2 linked regions of the Homo sapiens genome follow. The main gene of each other region encodes a partner of the protein of the gene in region 2 in a complex. Each region holds a gene or a part of one and is shown on either strand. Other genes may lie near its edges. A codon is read from its position in the direction of its gene.

What was found.
Region 1: the proteins of FGF23 (region 2) and KL are in contact, whole or in part, in a cryo-EM structure (PDB 7YSH), measured with the Homo sapiens proteins. Residues at the interface, in NP_065689.1 of Homo sapiens: Leu39, Met74 (codon at 4,708), Ala80 (codon at 4,690), Val88 (codon at 4,666), Arg91 (codon at 4,657), Leu166 (codon at 2,622), Ile167 (codon at 2,619), Phe169 (codon at 2,613), Asn170 (codon at 2,610), Ile173 (codon at 2,601), Arg175 (codon at 2,595), His177 (codon at 2,589), Asp184 (codon at 2,568), Ser185 (codon at 2,565), Glu186 (codon at 2,562), Arg187 (codon at 2,559), Asp188 (codon at 2,556), Pro189 (codon at 2,553), Leu190 (codon at 2,550), Asn191 (codon at 2,547), Val192 (codon at 2,544), Leu193 (codon at 2,541), Lys194 (codon at 2,538), Pro195 (codon at 2,535), Arg196 (codon at 2,532), Ala197 (codon at 2,529), Arg198 (codon at 2,526), Met199 (codon at 2,523), Thr200 (codon at 2,520), Pro201 (codon at 2,517); in NP_004786.2 of Homo sapiens: Phe377 (codon at 2,352), Lys385 (codon at 2,328), Leu389 (codon at 2,316), Glu390 (codon at 2,313), Pro392 (codon at 2,307), Trp417 (codon at 2,232), Phe418 (codon at 2,229), Ser420 (codon at 2,223), Lys429 (codon at 2,196), Tyr432 (codon at 2,187), Tyr433 (codon at 2,184), Lys436 (codon at 2,175), Phe437 (codon at 2,172), Arg468, Ser471, Ile472, Arg556, Arg693, Asn694, Met695, Thr696, Tyr697, Ile735, Val752, Phe755, Asp756, Asn782, Asn783, Leu785, Ile812.

The regions. Positions count from the first base shown.
Region 1 is NC_000013.11:33,046,550-33,056,427, reverse strand, and holds part of KL (klotho precursor), read right to left. Parts: intron 2,662-9,878; coding exon 2,151-2,661; intron 1,382-2,150; coding exon 1,113-1,381; coding exon of another isoform or gene 1,063-1,112; intron 1-1,062. UniProt on the Homo sapiens protein: May have weak glycosidase activity towards glucuronylated steroids. However, it lacks essential active site Glu residues at positions 239 and 872, suggesting it may be inactive as a glycosidase in vivo.
Region 2 is NC_000012.12:4,367,982-4,377,859, forward strand, and holds the end of FGF23 (fibroblast growth factor 23 precursor), read right to left. Parts: intron 4,717-9,878; coding exon 4,613-4,716; intron 2,803-4,612; coding exon 2,362-2,802; 3' UTR 246-2,361; downstream 1-245. UniProt on the Homo sapiens protein: Regulator of phosphate homeostasis. Inhibits renal tubular phosphate transport by reducing SLC34A1 levels. Up-regulates EGR1 expression in the presence of KL. Acts directly on the parathyroid to decrease PTH secretion. Regulator of vitamin-D metabolism.

The sequences.
Region 1 (9,878 bases), on a different chromosome or scaffold from region 2:
TGTACTAAGGATGGTGTTAATTTATTTCCTTATAAATAAAAGATTTCAATTGGATATTTACAAGAAAACAGCAACCCATTTCACATTCTTCCAAGTGTTTCCTTTCAAGCTGTGATTTGCAGAACCAATTAATTGGCTACCATAACCCAACATGTCAAAGCCAACTGCTTGTCTATGGACACTGAACTCTGTCTCTGTCTTGAGGGCTATTTTCACACTTGGGACTCTATCAGCAGCAATCCCCCAGCCCCGCCCTTGTTACTTACCACCATGCCCGCTTCACTCCATTGCATCATTTGTGCATACATTGTTTTCGCTCAGTAGACTCCTTTGCTCCTTTGAAAGCAAAGGTTACCCTTACTCATCTCAGTATACCCTCTACCTGCACTCCCCTTAACCAAGCGACCCGAGCAACTAACACAAGGCTTCGGACACACTAGACATCCAATAAGTGCTTACTAGAGTATCCAGTCAAATGCTGGAAAACAAGCCCCTTCAAAATTTAGGAAGTCTGAAAGAATGTTAAGGGCTTACTACTGAGAAGATGCTCAATAAATATTGGTTGATCATTCTGAAGAAATTTCGTATCATTTCAATGACTATTGCTAAAAAAGACATTCTGACCAGTGAATCATTGGATCTAGGGTTTACTTTCTTAGGGTATTTCTGCACATTTGTGGAGCCCACAGTTGTGCCTCTGGAGGACTCTGCCTAATGTTCCTGCCTCAGTCTCAGCAGCACCACTGAAACTCAGAGGCTTTGGAGTTCTGTGTTAGATCCTGTTCATGAAAAAACTCAACTGCCTTAAAAAGGATCAAAAACCACAGTATGAAAAGAGAGTGTTTTATCTTTTTACTGTCTTAATCGGATCTTAAATATTGATATGCTTTAAATTTATTTATCTTTGGATCTAACTTAAACAAGATGAAGATTGGAAGAGTTTTGGAGAGAAGGGTGCAGCATTCCAAATTGTGCCCTTAGTGTACTCATAAGGAATTGTTTTTGGCTCAAAGAACGGACAATGTGCCATGACAATCAGCCTAGGAAGGAAGCACTACTTACTAGTGATAGGGCTTGGTGAGACTGCTGATTGGTTTTGTCAGCTGACTTACTTGAATGTAGTTGTCAACAACTCCCCAAGCAAAGTCACAGGGAAATGTCCCTTCTAGGGGCTGATTTTCAGGTAAAGGAGGGAAGCCATTTTTCTCTATCAGCTTTTGGTAGAACAAGGCTGAAGACTTTGGCAACAACATCTTGTCCTGGCTTAGAAAGTCAACATAGAAGAGTCCACGCCTGATGCTGTAACCTCTGTGCCACTCGAAACCATCCATGAGGGACCATGCGGTATACCCGATGACATCCACCCCATCCAGCTTGATGGCTGCAAAGGGAAGAGGGGACAAGAGCAACATGACCCTTCGCTGGGCACTTGCATCATGGTTCAAGAGCAGCTGAGCGTTTCCTACTTAAATAAATAAAGTGTAATGCTTCTCGTTTGGTAAGCCAATGATTTTTCTTCTTGACGAAAGACTCTAATCAAACCTATATAACTCTACAAATAAATGCCCTCAAAATTGGCCTATCTAATATGTTTTTTGGATTTCTGAGCACCTTGAAAAAATAGTTCCTTATTTATAATAGATATTCTACAGGGCTGGAAAGATGTCTTGTACCACTTTCCATCCTAGACACCCAGCTTTGTGTCTGATGCAATAAATAAATAAATGAAGGCTTTAAAAGCATGATCTATTTATACTATTTTCTCTAGAAAACATGGACATTCCTTTTTCTTTAAAGTGTTTTATTCAACCAAAATAACAAGAACTGAAAAACATGTGCAGAGAGCTAGATATCCTGGGATTTGTTTTATGTTCAATTTAATCTAAAAATCTAGATTAATAACTGAAAGTTAAGTAATTACAAATATTATAACCCAGTTTCTCATTTACAAATGGGTTTTTAAAAATTAATTCAAGTTCCTCAAGACTCCAAATGAGAAAGGTGTTAAATGAATGCATTCTACTATTGCCAAAATGAATGTCTCCATTAGGATTTAAAAATATAAATTCACATCATTTATGTTAGATAATCTTAGAGATTTTTTTCCAGAAGATTTTGGCAGGAAATGAGAACTTTACCCACAATCATACCTTTTAAGGTTTCCATGATGAACTTTTTGAGGTAATACATATATTTGGCATCATCTCTCTTGGTGGTCCCTGAGACAAACCAGCCATTTTCCACAATAAATATTTGAGGATGGTTAAATTCAAGGTCAATCCAGGAAAGCAGTTGCCTCAGGTTGGGAGATTCCAATTGGCGGAACTTCATGTGAGGGTCCAAAAGTTGAAAACTCAAGGTGGGTCCAAAGCAAAGAGCAAAAAAGTCAGCAGTTCCTTTGATGAACTTTTTCTCAGATTCAGTAAAATCAGGCAGAATAGATGAAAGGTTATTCTTCATGCTCTCGGGATAGTCACCATCAATAAATACGGGTTTGGCAAACCAACCTAGTACAAAGTCCAGAGATTTTTGACATTCTTTGATGCTGTGGTCGGTCATTCTTCGAGGATTGATCCAGTGAGAGCTTAGGGCAATGGACACCTGACCTCCCTGAGTGGGACGGAAAGAAGTATTGTAGAGATGCCAGACTTTGGCATGAGCCTATGAAGAGAAAAACCATGGCAAATTTATCTCTAGTTGTGAGGAGAAATGCAATATAATACTTGAATCCCCAAATCAGATTATATCTGTTTCTCATCAAGCCTAACTTAATGACTAACAATATAAAAATCAGCTAGAACCAATACATTATTTCAAAGGTAGGTCACCCCACAGTGAGGTGCTACGGGGACTAGAGTTATTTCCATTGGTCTTTAGCAGTCAGTGGAAAAATGTAGATTCCTTGGGTTGAGTGTGTAGTTATCCACATTTTGAAAAGCTAATGAAATAAAAGAATTTGTTATAATAGCTTACTATTTAATTGACTTTGGATTATGTACTTTTTAATTTACGGGTTTCATGAAAAGAACCAATGCTACATCTGTGATCACACCAGGAATTTCTAAATAGGATTATATTTTTTATCCTGAGACTGGGAGTTTTCAAAATGACTCAGGTCGTTGGAGTTAATTTACTGTTTCATAGTCATCTCTCGTAGCTAAAATTCTAACAAGCAATCTTCTTTCTTCCCAAGAAGAATCAGTACAATAAATTAAAGAACCCACTCCAGCATCTAACCTTGGCCTACCCTCCAGAACTCTGGGACAGTTCTGGTTTCCCACAGACCCAGGGTGCTAGGTCCAAGCCAAGAGCAAAAAACAGCAAAATACAGCTGCAAGGAAATCAGTTGTCCATTGTTAGCATGCAGCCAGGAGTTTCGTACAGCAGTGAAAAGGGCTTTGCATCCATAAAACCAACTTTATACTCCCATAAATTCTTACTGACTTCTAATATCTTATTTTCATTTGTTTCCTTTTTATTTACAAGGAAGAGTGAAAATTATAGGGGTTTTTTCTCCCCTACTTGAAGTGAGTTTCTCTTTCTCTTTGAATTCCTTGATTTACTCTCCCTATTTTCCTACAAATACAAGTGTTGTTTATCAGCCTTTATTCCCCTAACATATCCTCTTTGAAAACTCCATTCAAATTCTCTGTTTGACTCCATATATTCTCCAAAATGATCATGCCAATTTTCATTCCACTCCCTGGGCCTGCAGAAACTCCTTTGTTCATTAAGCCAAACAGCCTCTTCAACATATCCTAAATATTCCTCTCGTGGTTCATTTCAGTACAGGCATCCAAGAATGGCCTCATCAACATTCTTATGGGTTCAGCCAAACATTTCAATGAAATAAGATAGTTTGTGGCTAACTTTTCTTTTTAGTTTCTTGGTGAACATATCTACTATGTTTCATTTCACTAAATGTATTTTTTCACGACCTGAAGCAGCTATCTATATGCTAAGAAGGAAATAGAGAATCAAATGTTGATCAAAAGAATAGTGGCACTTGCTTATGTGGTCTAAGAAACCAGGGTCTTAATCGTGCCACACTTCTGTCAGTTTTATGATGTCTCCTACCCTTCTCCATCTTCCCCATCACACCTCCCCAGGCCTCCCTTCCTCATTGAAAGGAAACCTCATGATGTTAACAGTTAAACAGAGGCTGGGCATGATGGCTCATGCCTGCAGTCCCAGCACTTTGGGAGGCCGAAATCCCAGCACATTGGGAGAATCCCTTGATACCAGGAGTTCACAACTAGCCTGCGCAAAGAGTGAGACCCCATTTCTACCAAAAAATCCAAAACTTAACCAGTCATGGTGCTGTGTGCCTGTAGTCCCAGCTACTAGGAAGGCTGAGGCAGGAGGATCACTTGAGCCCAGGAGATGGAGGCTTCGGTGAGCCATGTTCACACCACTGACCTCCAGCCCAGGTGACAGAGAAAGATATGTCTCACAAAACAAAAACAAACAAACAAATAAACACAACAGTTAAACATAAAATCCATTGAGCAGTCCAGGCTAGTACTCAGCAATTAACCTCTTGAGACCAAAAACCAGGGGACTTTCCTAATTTGACCGCATTTGAGGCCTATGAACAGTCATGTCCTAAATCTACCAGGCACCTTTCTGTAGAATAAGCGCTGAACAGGGAATGAAAGAGTGAAAGCAAACAAAGAATGCATTAATCTCGGTCAGTTTTGCAGGTAGCTGAAGTCATACAATGGAATTTTTTATAATTATAGACCACTCTTCTAACCTTGAGGACTTTAACAAGGCTCAGAGGAGGAGGTTTAGCAAGGACATGATAAATGACCTGGGCCATAAGGAAAGACATATATGGTCTCTGATGGCAGATAAAGTTCCTGCTCCATCACTCTTTTTTGTTTTGTTTTGTTTTAAGACTGGGTCTCACTCTGTCACCCTGACTGGAGTGAAGTGATGGGATCATGGCTCACTGCAGCCTCTACCTCCCAGGCTCAAGCAATCGTCCCACTTCAACCTCCCAAGTAACTGGGACTACAGGCACCTGGCTAATTTCTTTTTTATTTCTAGTAGAGATTAAATCTTGCTGTGTTGCCCTGGCTGGTCTTAAACTCCTGGGCTCAAGCGATCCTCAGCCTCCCACCTCAGCCTCCCAAAGTGCTGAGATTACAGGCATGAGCCACCGCACCTGGCCTTCGTCACTCTTGAGTTGGCCACATTCCTTAATTTGGGCAGGTAAATCTAACTTTCCTGTGCCTCACAGGACTGTTGTGAGGACTAAATGAGACAATTCATGTAAAACTCCTAATGCAGAGTTTGCAACAGTAGGATCTCCATGAATGCGTATCCCTTCTCTCTCTAGAGGATGAACAAACCAAAAGGAAGAATATTGCAGGTGGAGGAAACAACCCCTGCTAAGGAATTCAGCCCACAGTAGCGATGTGACATACTGATAAAACTTGGGGTTTGGAGTAGAAGAGACTTAGGTTTAGATTCCCTACTCCTCTAACTATGACCGGTGTGAGCCTCACTTACTGCTCTGTACAAGTGGGAATGACATCTATTGTCCCGTAGGGACACTGTGAGGATTAAATGACATAATGCAAGTGAGAGTGTCTTTTAAGTAGTTGATTATTTTACAGAGGAATACACTTGCAGCATTAGAAAGCATTTCAGATATCATTTGGATTAACTGCTCACCTCATGCCAAAACCCTGTTGAAACTTATTTGATTACTCTTTACAGCATCCTAACTTGGTGGTCATCCCAGGCATGGCACCGTCTCTAAGAAATCGCTGCAACCCCATGGACCCCCATACTGTGCTGCATGCCCCTCCTCTGGACACCAAGAGTCTCACACATACTTCTCTAATATCATTTACTGCAGATAATGAGGGGCATCCCTCCCCAGAATGAGCTCCCTGTGGAGTTCCCTCACTCCCTCCCTGGCACACGGAGGCCCTCATTGTCTGTTAAACTGAGTTGAACCAGCTTCACCACCTCTTCACGAGCCAGTTCACTCCCTTTGCGGATGGTACATTTGACAGATTAAATATTATGAGGCAGAGTGTGGGAAGGTCGCTATTTAGGATGTTGCAACAAATAAGGATGATTAACAGGGAGATGGTTACATATAGTCTTGCAATGCTTTCTAATTATTCCTGGTATGTTAATCTTATAGGCTTGTTGTCTTAAGATTGGGATTTAATAAAGTTATTGACAAGGACTCAGTGAAGTTATTAACTGTATGGCCAAGAACATTCATCTAAATACTATTTTTAATAGCCAAACATTGAAAACAATTGAAATGTCTAATATTCAAATATGTTTACCATGTATGAATGTTTTAATACATGATAGTATAACTAAAGAAATACCATTATTCAGGATAATGCAAAAGAATATCAATTAACATGTAAAAACGTTTCTAAAATACTCTGAACAGAAAAAGGTTATAAAATAGCAAGTAGAGTTTAGTAGCACTTTGATCTGGAGGGATTTATAACTTGTTAAAACCTGTTTTACAGCAGGATTGTGGGTGGTATAATTCACTTCATTTTACCCATCTATATATTTTTTTCATTTCCTACCATAAACATGTATTGCTCTAGAGATTAAAAAAATAAAATTCAAAAAGGGAAAATGGCTGATAGCAGTTGGATGGCAGGCCTGTTTGATGGTTATTAAAAGTCTCTGCTTCATCTCACCCTGCCCACCTGTTCTCCAACTTGCCCTATGGTCTCTGCCTGAAATCCAAGTCCCAGGCACATTGAACCCCACTTGAAGTTCTAAGATTATCTAGCCTTCCATGCTTTGGAGGTGCAGCTCTCTAAGGTATGTTTTGCCTATTCCCAGTTCCTTCACTCTTACACCCACTTTAAAACTCAGCTTAGATGTCGCCACCTCCAGGAAGCATTCCTTGACATCTTCCCTCTCCCTAGCATGGACTAAATGTCTGTTCTATGTGTTTCTATGATGGTCCTCTATCCAAGACCTTAACCATATATTATTGCATTTATTTAAGTGTCTGGATTGTAGGTGTTTTGAAGGCATTGAGTCTTTTATCTCTCAGATTCTAGCAAAGTCTCTGCAACAGAGCCAGTATTCAATAAACAGATCTAGAGGAATGAAGGCTGGCACTAAGAACCAGATCAAAGGGTCTAGGACAGAAGCAACATTTTTCTGGGCTGAAGCAGGAAAACTCTCTCATAAGCTACTCTGGTTCTTATTTTGCTTTCAAGATCATGAAAGACAGAAAACTTTCAGGCACATACCATTAAAAAATAAATTAGAAGGAATTTTATATGGCAGGCCTCTGAGAATAATACCATATTATCTCATAATGTGCTAATGATCCACTTTGGGGTATAAGTCTCTCTCGTATGTGATGCCCTCCTTGCTTCCTTCTTACCTTCCATCTAGATTTTGAAACATGGAGTCTGAAAAAAATCTAGAAGAAAAATGGATCTGGAATTCCTTCCTACCAACTAGCTAGTAGCCCCAAATTTTGGAAGTCGAGGAAAATAATTTTGGAAGTCGAGGAAAATACTCTGAATTCCACAGAACATATAGACATTTTCTCTTTGGCTAAATTATAAGCTCCCTGTCATTTGCCTATACGTATCCCCCACAGAACCCAACAAAAAGTTTCACACAAATAAGCTGCTTTTAAATGGTGGGTGGAAGGAAACAGGTGATGAGCCTCAGGTCCACTCCAGCTTTCTGCCTTGGGTTGTGTTCTAGGTATGGCTGAGGCAAATGAAGCCCACACAATACACAGCAGTATTGCTGAGCTGAAAAGGAAGAAAGCAATGATGAGGACTCTGAAGCAGGTCAACGTACTGGAGAGAAGAAATCTACACAAAGGAAGGACCTAGAAGTCTGCATGAGATTTCCCAAGGATCCTTGGCTGTCCATGCACAGGACAAGATTTTGTGAGGCTCAGCAAAGAGAAGCAGCCACAGGTCTGGGAGATGAATACCAAAGGTTGGGTAGGTCTGGAAAATATTGCATTTCAGAATAGCCAGAGTAGAAAAATGCAGCTGAGCACTTCAGGCATCCAGCTGAAACTCAGGAAGGTCATTACCTGAGAAGTAAGAACAAAGCAGGAATAGACCAGCTCTAACAAAGACTAAAGCCACATCAAGTAAATCTGGTAATTTAACTTCTTGGCAGAACTAAATACAACACCCTTTAAAAAGAGACAATATTGACCAGGCTTCCTATAATATCTCATTCATAGCACACAGAGCATAATAAAAATCTACTAGATATGTGAAAAAGCAGGAAAATGAAACCCTTAATTAAGGGGAAAAAAAGAAGTATTCAATATCAACAGAAGCCAAGATGTCCCAGACATTGGGATTAGCAGAGGACTTTAAAATAGCTATTATAAATATTTTTAAGGATTTCAAAGAAAAGATAGATATAATGAACAAATGGAGAATAACAACAGAGAAACAACAACTGAAGAAAACATGAAAATTCTAGAACTGAAAAGCGAAATAAACAAATTTTTGAATGGGATTAACAATATTAATTCTAAATGGAATAATAATAAGAATAAATAATGTAATCCCTAAAACTCACAAAGATATTAAAAGGTTTCTCTAAAAAGCCAATAAAATAAGAAAAATGAATTACCAAAAAATCTGATTTTTCCAAAAGATGCAGAAATAAAAAACAAAAAACACATGGAACAAAAAGAAAACAAATAGCAGGATTGTAAACATAAACCCAAACATATCAATAAATATTCAAATACACATGGACTAAATGTTCCAAGTACAAGACAGATGCTATGAAAGCAGATTTTAGGGGCTGGGTGCAGTGGCTCACGCCTGTAATCCCAGCACTTTGGGAGGCCAAGGCAGGTGGATCACGAGGTCAGGAGTTCAAGACCAGCCTGACCAACATGGTGAAACCCCGTCTCTACTAAAAATACAGGTGCCTGTAATCCCAGCTACTCGGGAGGCTGAGACAGGAGAATTGCTTGAACCCGGGAAGCAGAGATTGCAGTGAGCCAAGATTGTGCCACTGCACTCCAGCCTGGGCAACAGAGCAAGACTCCATCTCAAAAAAAAAAAAAAGAAAGTAGATTTTAGAAAAGTAAGTTTCAATTACATTCTGTGTGCAAGAAATATACTATAAATATAAAGTGATCATGTAAAAGAAAAAGAATGGAAAGAGACATATTATGCAAATGGACAGCATTAAAAATCTGGCATGGTTATATTAATAACAAAATGGAGGCTTTGAACATCACTATAATTCACCTAGAGCTAACAGACATATATATTAATAGAACATGCCACCCACCTAAAAAAATCAGAATATACATTTTTCTCAAGTGCACATGATACATTTTCCAGGATAGATCATATGTTAGACCAGAAAATAAGTCTTAATAAATTTTAAACTGTTGAGATCATAAAAAGTATTGTTTCTTACCACAATGAAATGAAACTAGAAATCAATAACAAAAGGAAAACTAGAATATTCACAAATACGTGGAAATTGTTGACACACTCAAACAAGCAATAAGTCAATGAAGAAATCACAAGGTAGATTAGCAAAAGCTTAAATGTGTATATAAAAAACTAACTGAATATGTAACATACCAATACTTATAAATTGCAGCAAAAGCAATGCTCAGAGGAAATTTTATAGCTTTAAATACCTACATCAAAAAAAAAAACAAGATATATCTCAATAACTTAGTCTTCCACCTTAAGAAAATAAAAAAGAAGAGCCAACTAAACTCACAGCTAACAGAATAAAGGAACTAATAAAAATTAGAATGGATATACACAAAATACAGAGCAGAAAAATTATAGAATCAACAAAATCAAAAGTTGGTTCTTTGAAAAAAATCAACAAAACAGACCAACCTTTAG
Region 2 (9,878 bases):
TGGCCAAGATGGTGAAACCCTGTCTCTACTAAAATTACAAAAATTAGCCAGGCGCAGTGGCAGGTGCCTGTAATCCCAGCTACTTGGAAGGCTGAGGCAGGAGAATCGCTTGAACCTGGGAGGCAGAGGTTGCAGTGAGCCGAGATCGCGCCACTGCACTCCAGCCTGGGTGACAGAGCAAGACTCCATCTTAAAAAAAAAAAAAAGAAAGAAAGAAAGAAAGAAAACACTTTAGGGTTAGAATGACCAGAAATCCAATATTGATAAAACTTAAATAATTCTGTCTAGATCAATTAAAATCATTGAGTCTCCTTATGAATGGAAGAAATCTTTGAAAATTTTAAAATTCTAAAATCTTTTTTTCAATTTTGCCTTCTCTGGATTTCCCTAATGTTCCCCTCCCATAATCCTTTTTATTCTTATATTCCGACATGCTTTTAAGTAGTACTACAAAGAGGATAAGCTAACAGAAGCTGAGATAAATTTTATTTTTATTTTAAACAGAAGAAAGGAAAAAGGGGTTACATTTTTATAAATATCTATAAATATAGAAGGATAGGCAAACTTCCAAATAAATAAATAAATACTGCCACATGACGAGGGATATAAGAAATTGTAGGAGCTATTTTGGCTTTGCCATAAAGAAAACCCCTGATGGTAGTGTTGAGTTTGTGAGATTACAACTAGTTTTCCACCAAAATCCTTTTGGGATCTTTCACTGAGGAGCCTCCAATAGCTATTATGCAGGATAATATTTCCAACAGGAAATGAAAACAGAAATATTAAAATATTTGCCATGCATGGCTATATACTATTATACATAGTTTTACTGTTTCAGAATAGGAACCAGTCCTTCAAGTTCAGCTTAAAACCATCAGGTAAAAACAGTTGCCCAACATTTCTCTCATAACCAAAAAGAATAGATCAAAGTATAAGGTTAGTATGTGATGGCAGTGAGAAAAAAAAAAGTGACTGGGAAGAAGCTGTTGTTGAATCGACTTTGCTTGTTAATATACTGTCCTTTAGGTGGTCATTTAAAGAGAGGGAGGAAAATGGAGCCCCCTTACAGGAAGAACCGCAGTAATGGGGTAAGGCTTCATTTAATGCACCAAGAATTTCCAAGGGGATTGAGACCCAGATGTGTCAGCCTAGGAGAGTTTTAACTAATCGAAGAGCCACTGCTGCTGCAGAGCCCTAGAGACCACAGACAAGAGCCTGACCATGTGGTTGTCTTTTCATAACTTCTATAACATGTCCCCTGATTTCTTTCCCCCTGAGTCCTTGATGCCACTTCATTTAGAGAAAAGGACACGATTTTTCAGTCCACAGAAAACCTAACCCAGAGCAGTCCCAGTCTCTCAAAGCCCCCTTCCCAGTCACATTTTTGTAGTTTGTTCAGAATGGATTCCTACTCAACCTGGAAGTAGAGCCTTAATTAAATGCCTCTTAGGAGAGTTGGAATTTATTTCCATTTTGAAAAGCAAATTCTAGCAGGGCAGATTTTCGTGAGCCAGTGTAAAAGCTATTTATTCCTTAGACCAAATTTTCAAAAACCAGAGATGGGGCCAAAAGGTGAGGCTGTATCATGAACTGCTTGGGAACAGAGTGGGGCCATTCTGGGCCCTCTGGCTGTGGCTGCACAGAGGGAGACAGCGAGACAGAAGGTGCTCACCCTGTAGGGAGGCTGAGTTTTCTATTATGATTCCTGCCTCATTTCAGCAAGCATCAAGTCTAGCTGTCAAGTTTTCACCAGCCTACCACCAGTCTTTTGACAGCTCTTCCCCAGAGATGCTCAAGGAAGAACGAAGGCTTGAAAGTAGTGTTTTCATCAACTTGCCCCATTCAGCTGTTAATGTCAAGGTTTGCACACTCAAATGCCAGTGGGATCGGGGCATCTAACATAAATGCATAGGGCAGTGGAGAAGCTTCTGGGATCTCCGATTTCCTCTTCCCTACACCTTCAAAGTCTTGAGCTCAGGAACCCACTGCTTTTTTTTTTTTTTTTTTTTTTTTTTTTTTTTATGCTTAAAAGTGATAAAGAGGAGAGGCACAAGGAAGAGAAATATGTTGGGAGAGACCCCTTCTCTCTACCTTCATGAAGGGGAAATTTCTAGTTTACCTGTTGGGGTTTCCTATTGGGAAAGGTGTTCTATATGGAGTGAGGAAGGCGGTGAAACCCCATGACTTGGGCCTCAAAGGTTGGTTCTCACAGGACCTCCTGTGGAAGGGACCCCAGAGAAGCAGCAAATTCCATACATGCCCCTGTCACCTTTCCCATCCTCGGAACGTCAAGGGACCTGGTCCTTGGGAAGAGCTGCGTTTGCTGAGGGATGGGTTAAAGAGGGTGCCCTTCCAGCGACCCTAGATGAACTTGGCGAAGGGGCGGCAGCCTTCCGGGCCCGTTCCCCCAGCGTGCGTGTTCACTCGACCGCCCCTGACCACCCCTAATGGGTCACTGGCCATCGGGCTGTTGTCCTCGGCGCTCGGGAGCTCCTGTGAACAGGAGGCCGGGGCCGGGGTCATCCGGGCCCGGGGCTTCAGCACGTTCAGGGGGTCCCGCTCCGAGTCGTCCTCGGCGCTCCGGGTGTGCCGCCGTGGTATGGGGGTGTTGAAGTGAATTAGGGGGATCTCGTTCCTCCGGGACAGGAACTGGGAGTACGGGGGTGGGTTCATGCCTGGCAGGAAGGCTCTCTTCGCCCGGCCCAGACTGACCAGGAAGTGATACTGAGGAGAGTGGTAGACGTCGTACCCGTTTTCCAGCGTCTGGTGTTGGAACCTGCAGTTCTCCGGGTCGAAATAGTGCTGGAAGGACAAGAGCGAACCACGTGAAGGCTGGCAGTGGGGGCCCCACCCACTCCCCAGCTCCTCCTGGGGCCACATGCTTGTGCCAGCCGGCCTGAAGCTCTGCAGTTCTTAGGGCGTTGAGCCTTCACCCCTTTGTTCCCTGCTGGGGTAGAGTGGTTTTGATTAATGCTCAAGCCCTGACTATATAGTTCGCCCTTTCAGAGACTACGACTACTGGGGCCTCCGCTTACTGCCTGGAGGCCCGGGCTGGCCTGGCCTGTGGTTTTCCTGGAGTAGGCACCACCTTGTCCTTCCTGCCCTCTATCTTTTCCAAGCCTCTGCTGGCTGAAAATTGGCTTGGGTTTGTCTCTTTACTGGAGAAAGGAGAGGGGATGGAGTTTATAGGGTCAAACATGAATGAGAGCACTGACGGGATTGGAGACATGAACTTTGCTGACAGATGAGCTGGGTTTGAATCCTCTACCACTAGTACTGGGTTTTACTGAGTGCCCCACGAAGGCCTTTGCCTGTTATTTCTTTTAATCCTCAAGCTCCACAAAGTAAGCAGTTTACAGATCAGGACTATCTACATGCCTAGAGGGGTTAACGGATGTTTAGTTAGTTATCTATATTTCAATAGTGGTTCAACAGATTTTTTGTTTGTTTGTTTACCTACTCTAGCCAGACACTATTGTAGGGGCTGGGATGCAGCAGAAAGCAAAACAGAAAGTCTCTGTTCTTGTGGAGTTTCTAGTGGGCATGTGTGGTGGTCAGAGACTCCTGAGATAAGCAGTCCTACTATTTTACTATCTCAAAATCCTCCAAAAGAGGCCAGCAGCCTTTAGTTTGGGAAATCCTTTGCTTACCAATCCGAATGAATAGCTATCACAATTGGGGCAGGGGTTATTAATTAAAAATCTTTAACTGGAGGGAGCTCCACAGGTCACGTGGTCTATTCCACTTCGCTTTTTCCAAGTGAAAATGCTGAAGTTTGGAGAAGTGAGGAGATTTACCCAAAGTCACAGCTAGTCCCAGAATCAAGAAGACACCAATGGCTTTTCACCCTTTCTAATGTACTTTACAACGTGAATTGACATGACTTGAGGACCTACGACTACATACCAGGGCCTGTGCTAGATTCAAAAGTGGGTTCCACAACCCAAATGTCCAACAATGATAGACTGGATTAAGAAAATGTGGCACATATACACCATGGAATACTATGCAGCCATAAAAAATGATGAGTTCATGTCCTTTGTAGGGACATGGATGAAATTGGAAACCATCATTCTCAGTAAACTATCGCAAGAACAAAAAACCAAACACCGCATATTCTCACTCGTAGGTGGGAATTGAACAATGAGATCACATGGACACAGGAAGGGGAACATCACACTCTGGGGACTGTTGTGGGGTGGGGGGAGGGGGGAGGGATAGCATTGGGAGATATACCTAATGCTAGATGATGAGTTAGTGGGTGCAGCACACCAGCATGGCACATGTATACGTATGTAACTAACCTGCACAATGTGCACATGTACCCTAAAACTTAAAGTATAATAATAAAAAAAAAAAGTGGGTTCCAATGGGCAGTGCAGACTAGGGGCTGAGAGCCTGGGATCTGGAGCCAGATTGCCTGAGTTCAAACCCCAGCTATTAAACGTGAGCATTCACGTTTAATTCATACTTAGACTGCATGAAGTATCAGTGGAAACAGGTCACCAGGGTACACTGCAAATGGAATTGTTAAGCTAGAAAAGTCTATGTCGTGTCAAAGAAATTAGGTTAATTGTTTGCAAATGGTGACCAACACAAAAAAGAAACTCACTGATCCAAAAATGTTGCCTCTGAAATCCATGCAGAGGTATCTTCTGCTCATCACACCTGTAATCACCACAAAGCCAGCATCCTCTGATCTGATCATCAGGGCACCTATGGAGAAAAACAGGCAGGGCAAAGACTCATTGCCATCCAATTCCCACCTTCAAGCACCTCCTGAAAACCTACCTTCATGAAACCTCCCTGGATTGATTTTAAGGGTGGTGATAACTTCAGCACTCTTAAATTCAGCCTCATTTCTGCATATTCAGCGTTTCTTCTGACATCCTCTCTTGCCCCCAACACACATACAGTCATTCACCTCCTGCTTCATCTTGTTGCCTGTATGGGGCACTCTGAGCTCCTGGAATTCTTCTACCTGTGCTGAACACATGTTTCTCTCTCTCTACCTGGACCGTCTTTATTTTCCCTTTTGCCTTACTAATACCTTTGAATGTTTGTGGTGATAGTCACATTCTTCCATGCCTTCTACTTTGTGATTTTTAAATCTATGCTGAGATGTCTTTCAAGGATCCAGCTTGCCATAGAGTCTGATTCTCCTCCTGGATGTCTGTGTAATTGTCTAATACATCAGTCAACACCCAGTATGTGTACAGAATGGTAGTAGAGTTGATCTCCCTCTTCCTTCTCTACTTATTGAAGTCACTCACTCTTCAAGACCAGGCTCAGGCGTCACCATCTCTATGAAGACTTTCCTCATCTTTCCATTCAAAATCAGTTGTTCTTCCTTCTCAGCTCCTCAGGACAATGCCTTCACCTCTATTACAGCATGTATTCCATTTAACTTGCTTTAGCTGAGTTTACCTATCCAGTGCGTTCCTTAGAGTGAGCTGCTTAGGAGCAGAGGGTATAACTGTTTATGTTGAATCAATATAAGTGACGGATGGAATTTTCTTCTTGGCTCTTCTTGGGTTGGTTCTTTGTCATTTTCTCACTTGGTGGTGACCTCTCCAGGTGCAGCCCCTCATGGACTTTCAGTGTCCCCTCTCAAAAACTAGTCTCCGACAAGGGCCTGAAACCCATTCACACGACCTACCTCTTAAGTAATTGATAATGGCTTTAAATTACTGTTTTGTGGCAAAGGCACAATTAGATCATATACTGGTGTAACATGCGTGATAATTCAGCGAGATTTCTTCCCCACATGTTATTTAATTACCTGACATTTTCTGTTAAAAATCATTACTTTAGGTCTTTGGGGCTACTTCCAGTTGCCTATCACAGAATTTCTAGGTGCATCTCATCTGACCTCATAGCCTCCAGGGAGGCAGCTAGAATCCCATGCAGGGATTCTAATTCCTCTTCTGCAACTGTAGCTTGGAGAGGTTGTAAATGCCCAATGTTTGTGCCTAGCAAGTGATGGAGCCTTGTGGGGGTGATTTAAAGGCCAAAGCTCTTCTCCTATCCCATGCAGGCTCAATACAAGGACCTTTGAGGAAAATAAGCAGCAATAATTAGGTACTAGCTGAGTAGAAATCATGATAGGGACTGAAATTGGACTGACGCGGAACAGAGGGAATGAGGGTGGAGACAAGCCCCAGAAAGGTGAGAAAGGAAGAGGGCCAAAGAGAGAAGTTAATTTGTTTCAAAGTTTGGCTGAGGGGAACCTTGAGGAAAGCTTCCCAGAAAGTGGACTGGGGTATGACAGGCGCAAAGGATGCTTAAATTCCTCCACAGTGGTGTCTGCCTATGTGTCTCAAATGTATGGCTAGTTTTGTGGTAAACCTTTGGAGAAATATAAGGAACGTGTAAGAAATGGTTTCGACTGGGTGCGGTGGCTCATGCCTGTAATCCCAGCACTCTGGGAGGCTGAGGCGGGTGGATCATGAGGTCAGGAGATCAAGACCATCCTGGCTAACACGGTGAAACCTCTTCTCTACTAAAATACAAAAAAAATTAGCCAGGTGTGTTGGTGGGCACCTGTAGTCCCAGCTACTCGGGAGGCTGAGGCAGGAGAATGGCATGAACCTGGGAGGCGGAGCTAGCAGTAAGCCGAGATTGCACCACTGCACTCCAGCCTGGGCGACAGAGCGAGACTCCGTCTCAAAAAAAAAAAAAAAGAAATGGTTTCTGTTCTGGTGACTTTTCAGTCTAATTGGGAAAAAATTACATTTAGTAATGGTCTTTGAGCGGTTGCACTCTAAGCACTTTACATATTTTAAATTCTCAAAACAAATTTTATATTGTTAGTACTGATTATTATTATTATTAGTAGTAGTAGTAGCAGCAATATCCTAATTTAAGTGATAAGGAAACTAAGACAGGATTGAAACTCAGGTCAGAGACATCTTCCCACCACCCGGTAACAAGCCTCCAGCAGAAATCACTAAGAGTCTGAGAAGACAATATCAAATGCTAAAATACATGCTGCAGGCAGTGAGGACAAGGAGTCACAGCAGCACTAAGGGCTCGGGGAAGGGGCACTGAGCCAGGTGCCAAGAACCAGGGGACTTGGATTTTGGTCCCAATTGTGCCACTTGCTGACCTTGCACTAGCCTCAGTTTCCTCAGCTGTGAAATAGAACAATGGCTGTCCTGCCTACTTCATAGGGTGATGATCGAAGGGGATAATGGTGGTAAAAGTGACTCGAAAGTGTCGAGCAAACAGAGGACATCACGTGGCGTGTTCTGACCTGCTGTTTATGCCGGGCCCATGCCTTGACAGGTGTGCTGGCTTGATGCTTGGGGTCAGTGTGGGCAGTGTGTATGGCACACACGCTCCTGGTTTCCAGAGCCAGTCCCCCTAGAAAACATCCGGCGGTGGTTGAGGAACTGTGAGAAGCTGCTACGGAGGGCACACAGACTCTTCCATCAAACAGTGTGAGCCAATGTGAAAGTTTAGAAAATGTGAGAGAGTCAGAGTTTCTTTCCTTTGTGCTTTCAAAAGGCATCTTTTCGCAGTCTGCACAGATTCAAGGGAGAATTTTGCAGAAGGAAGGAACAAACCATGGACTGCCGGAGCAACCAGCCCCGCCTGTTGGAGCTGAGCAGGCTTAATGGACTTTGCCTTCAATGACGGAGGTGTCTCCGTGCGTGTGACCTTGGAACAGCTTGGGATTTGGGGTCAAGGTGTCCTCTAGGTCTTTTACTACCTGTCTGACCTTCAGCCAGTTATTTAAGTTCTTTAACTCTTGTTTTTTCACATATAAAATGAGGACAGCAGAAACATTTACCTCATTTGGTCATCTTGAAGACATAATGAGATAATGTTTTTATCCTTTAGAAAGCACTTCCTAAGTGCTAGTAATTTTTACTATTACCACTTTGCTTCAACCTCTGCTTATAGAAGTAGAAAATTATCTACTCCATTCTACTCTTGTGGCCAGTAAGTGATAAATAAGATGATAGCAGTGAAGTGCTTTGAGCACCTCAAAAGAAAAACGTATGAAAAAGGCTGAAGGAGCTCAGCGGTAATTCAGCTTCAATAAAGATAGTTCCTATGGGGAAGATGGAGGAAGTGAAAATAGCAGGATCTAGGAAATGATATTACCAGGGACAATAAGCATCTCTCTCTTGCTGTTTCCATATAATAAGGATAAAGGGGAGTCAGAGGATGGCCTTGTTCATGGAACGGGTGATAAGGACACCAGAGGGGTACCTGGCAGCAGCGCTTGTGAGTCCTAAGGGAGCTTGAAGAATCTGGTAGGCAGGAGATAACTTCATTTTGTCAAGTCCAGTGACCCAAAGATGGGTTGTGCACTCAACTCTTAAGAATTTCTTACAGCAAAGTAATAAGATAAACCAGAATTCAATAGAAATGGATAATTAGGAGGGGAAAAAATACCCCTCACATTTTAGGTTTCCATCAGTGTAAAAACATTGCTTAACAGTCACTGATGAGGTCATTACAAATCCTTCACCAGACATTTAATTAGTTGTGCTTCTTATCTACATGCATTAATCTTTCCTCTTTCTTTTGGGTAACGTTTTTTTTTTGAGACGGAGTCTCACTCTGTCACCCAGGCTGGAGCACAGTGGTGCGATCTCAGCTCACTGCAAGCTCCACCTCTGGGGTACAAGCGATTCTTCTGCCTCAGCCTCCCAAGTAGCTGTGACTACAGGCAGGCACCACACCCCACTAATTTTTGTATTTTTAGTAGAGACAGGGTTTCCCCATGTTGGCCAGACTGGTCTCGAACCCCTGACTTCAAGTGATCCTCCCACCTCGGCCTCCCAAAGTGCTGAGATTATACGCGTGAGCCACCGCATCTGGCCTCTTTTGGGTAACTTTTAATTGTAGTGTGTAATTTTTTCCTGCACTTTTTTTTTCCCATAATACACATGACAACTCATTGAACAGTACAAAAAGTTATCTACATAGACTAGGAAAAGTAGATCTCCCTCCCACTACCCTGACCCGAAGTTCCCCTCCCCGCATTCATGTTTAACTCTTTAAAGATGCAATGTTTAGCTAGTGCCTATGTCTAAGGAAACAAAATCACATTTCTATTTTTAAAAATCTGAAGTCAGTTCAATTTATTTTGCTGCTTCTCAGTCATTTTAATTCACTCTAACTAGCACTCAGTGATCCCTTGGGGCCTGATACGAGGTGGGCTTTCAAGGAAAAGGTCTAAGTTCAGACTGCCAGCCCAGGAGGTTGACTCTTCACACTCACTCCCCACCGTAGCCGGCCTGTTCTGTTCTACCCTAATTCTTGTTCAGGAAGAAACGTCTTTAAGGAGTTCCTTTCAGCAACGGGATTCCAGGATTCGAGACAAGTTGTATAAACATTCTCTAGTTGGATGCAGCCCTTTCCATCTAAGAGAATCAAAATAATTTACCATAATCTACTATTCTGCATTTTAAATCACATATAGTCTTTTTTTTTTTTTTTTTTTTTTTTTTGAGATGGAGTCTCGCTCTGTCACCCAGGCTGGAGTGCAGTGGCGCAATCTCGGCTCACTGCAAGCTCTGCCTCCCGGGTTCACGCCATTCTCCTGCCTCAGCCTCCCAAGTAGCTGGGACTACAGGCGCCTGCCACCACGCCTGGCTAATTTTTTGTATTTTTAGTAGAGATGGGGTTTCACTGTGTTAGCCAGGATGGTCTCAATCTCCTGACCTCGTGATCTGCCTGCCTCGGCCTCCCAGAGTGCTGGGATTACAGGCGTGAGCCACCACACCTGGCCCACATATAGTCTTGAATTAGAGTAAGGGTGTCCCCTCCATGAGACATGCAAAATTGCATTTCCTGAAAGTCTGGTAGTGAGCTGGCTGACAAGGTAGGACGACAGACCATGAGGTCCTTGAAGGGTTGTG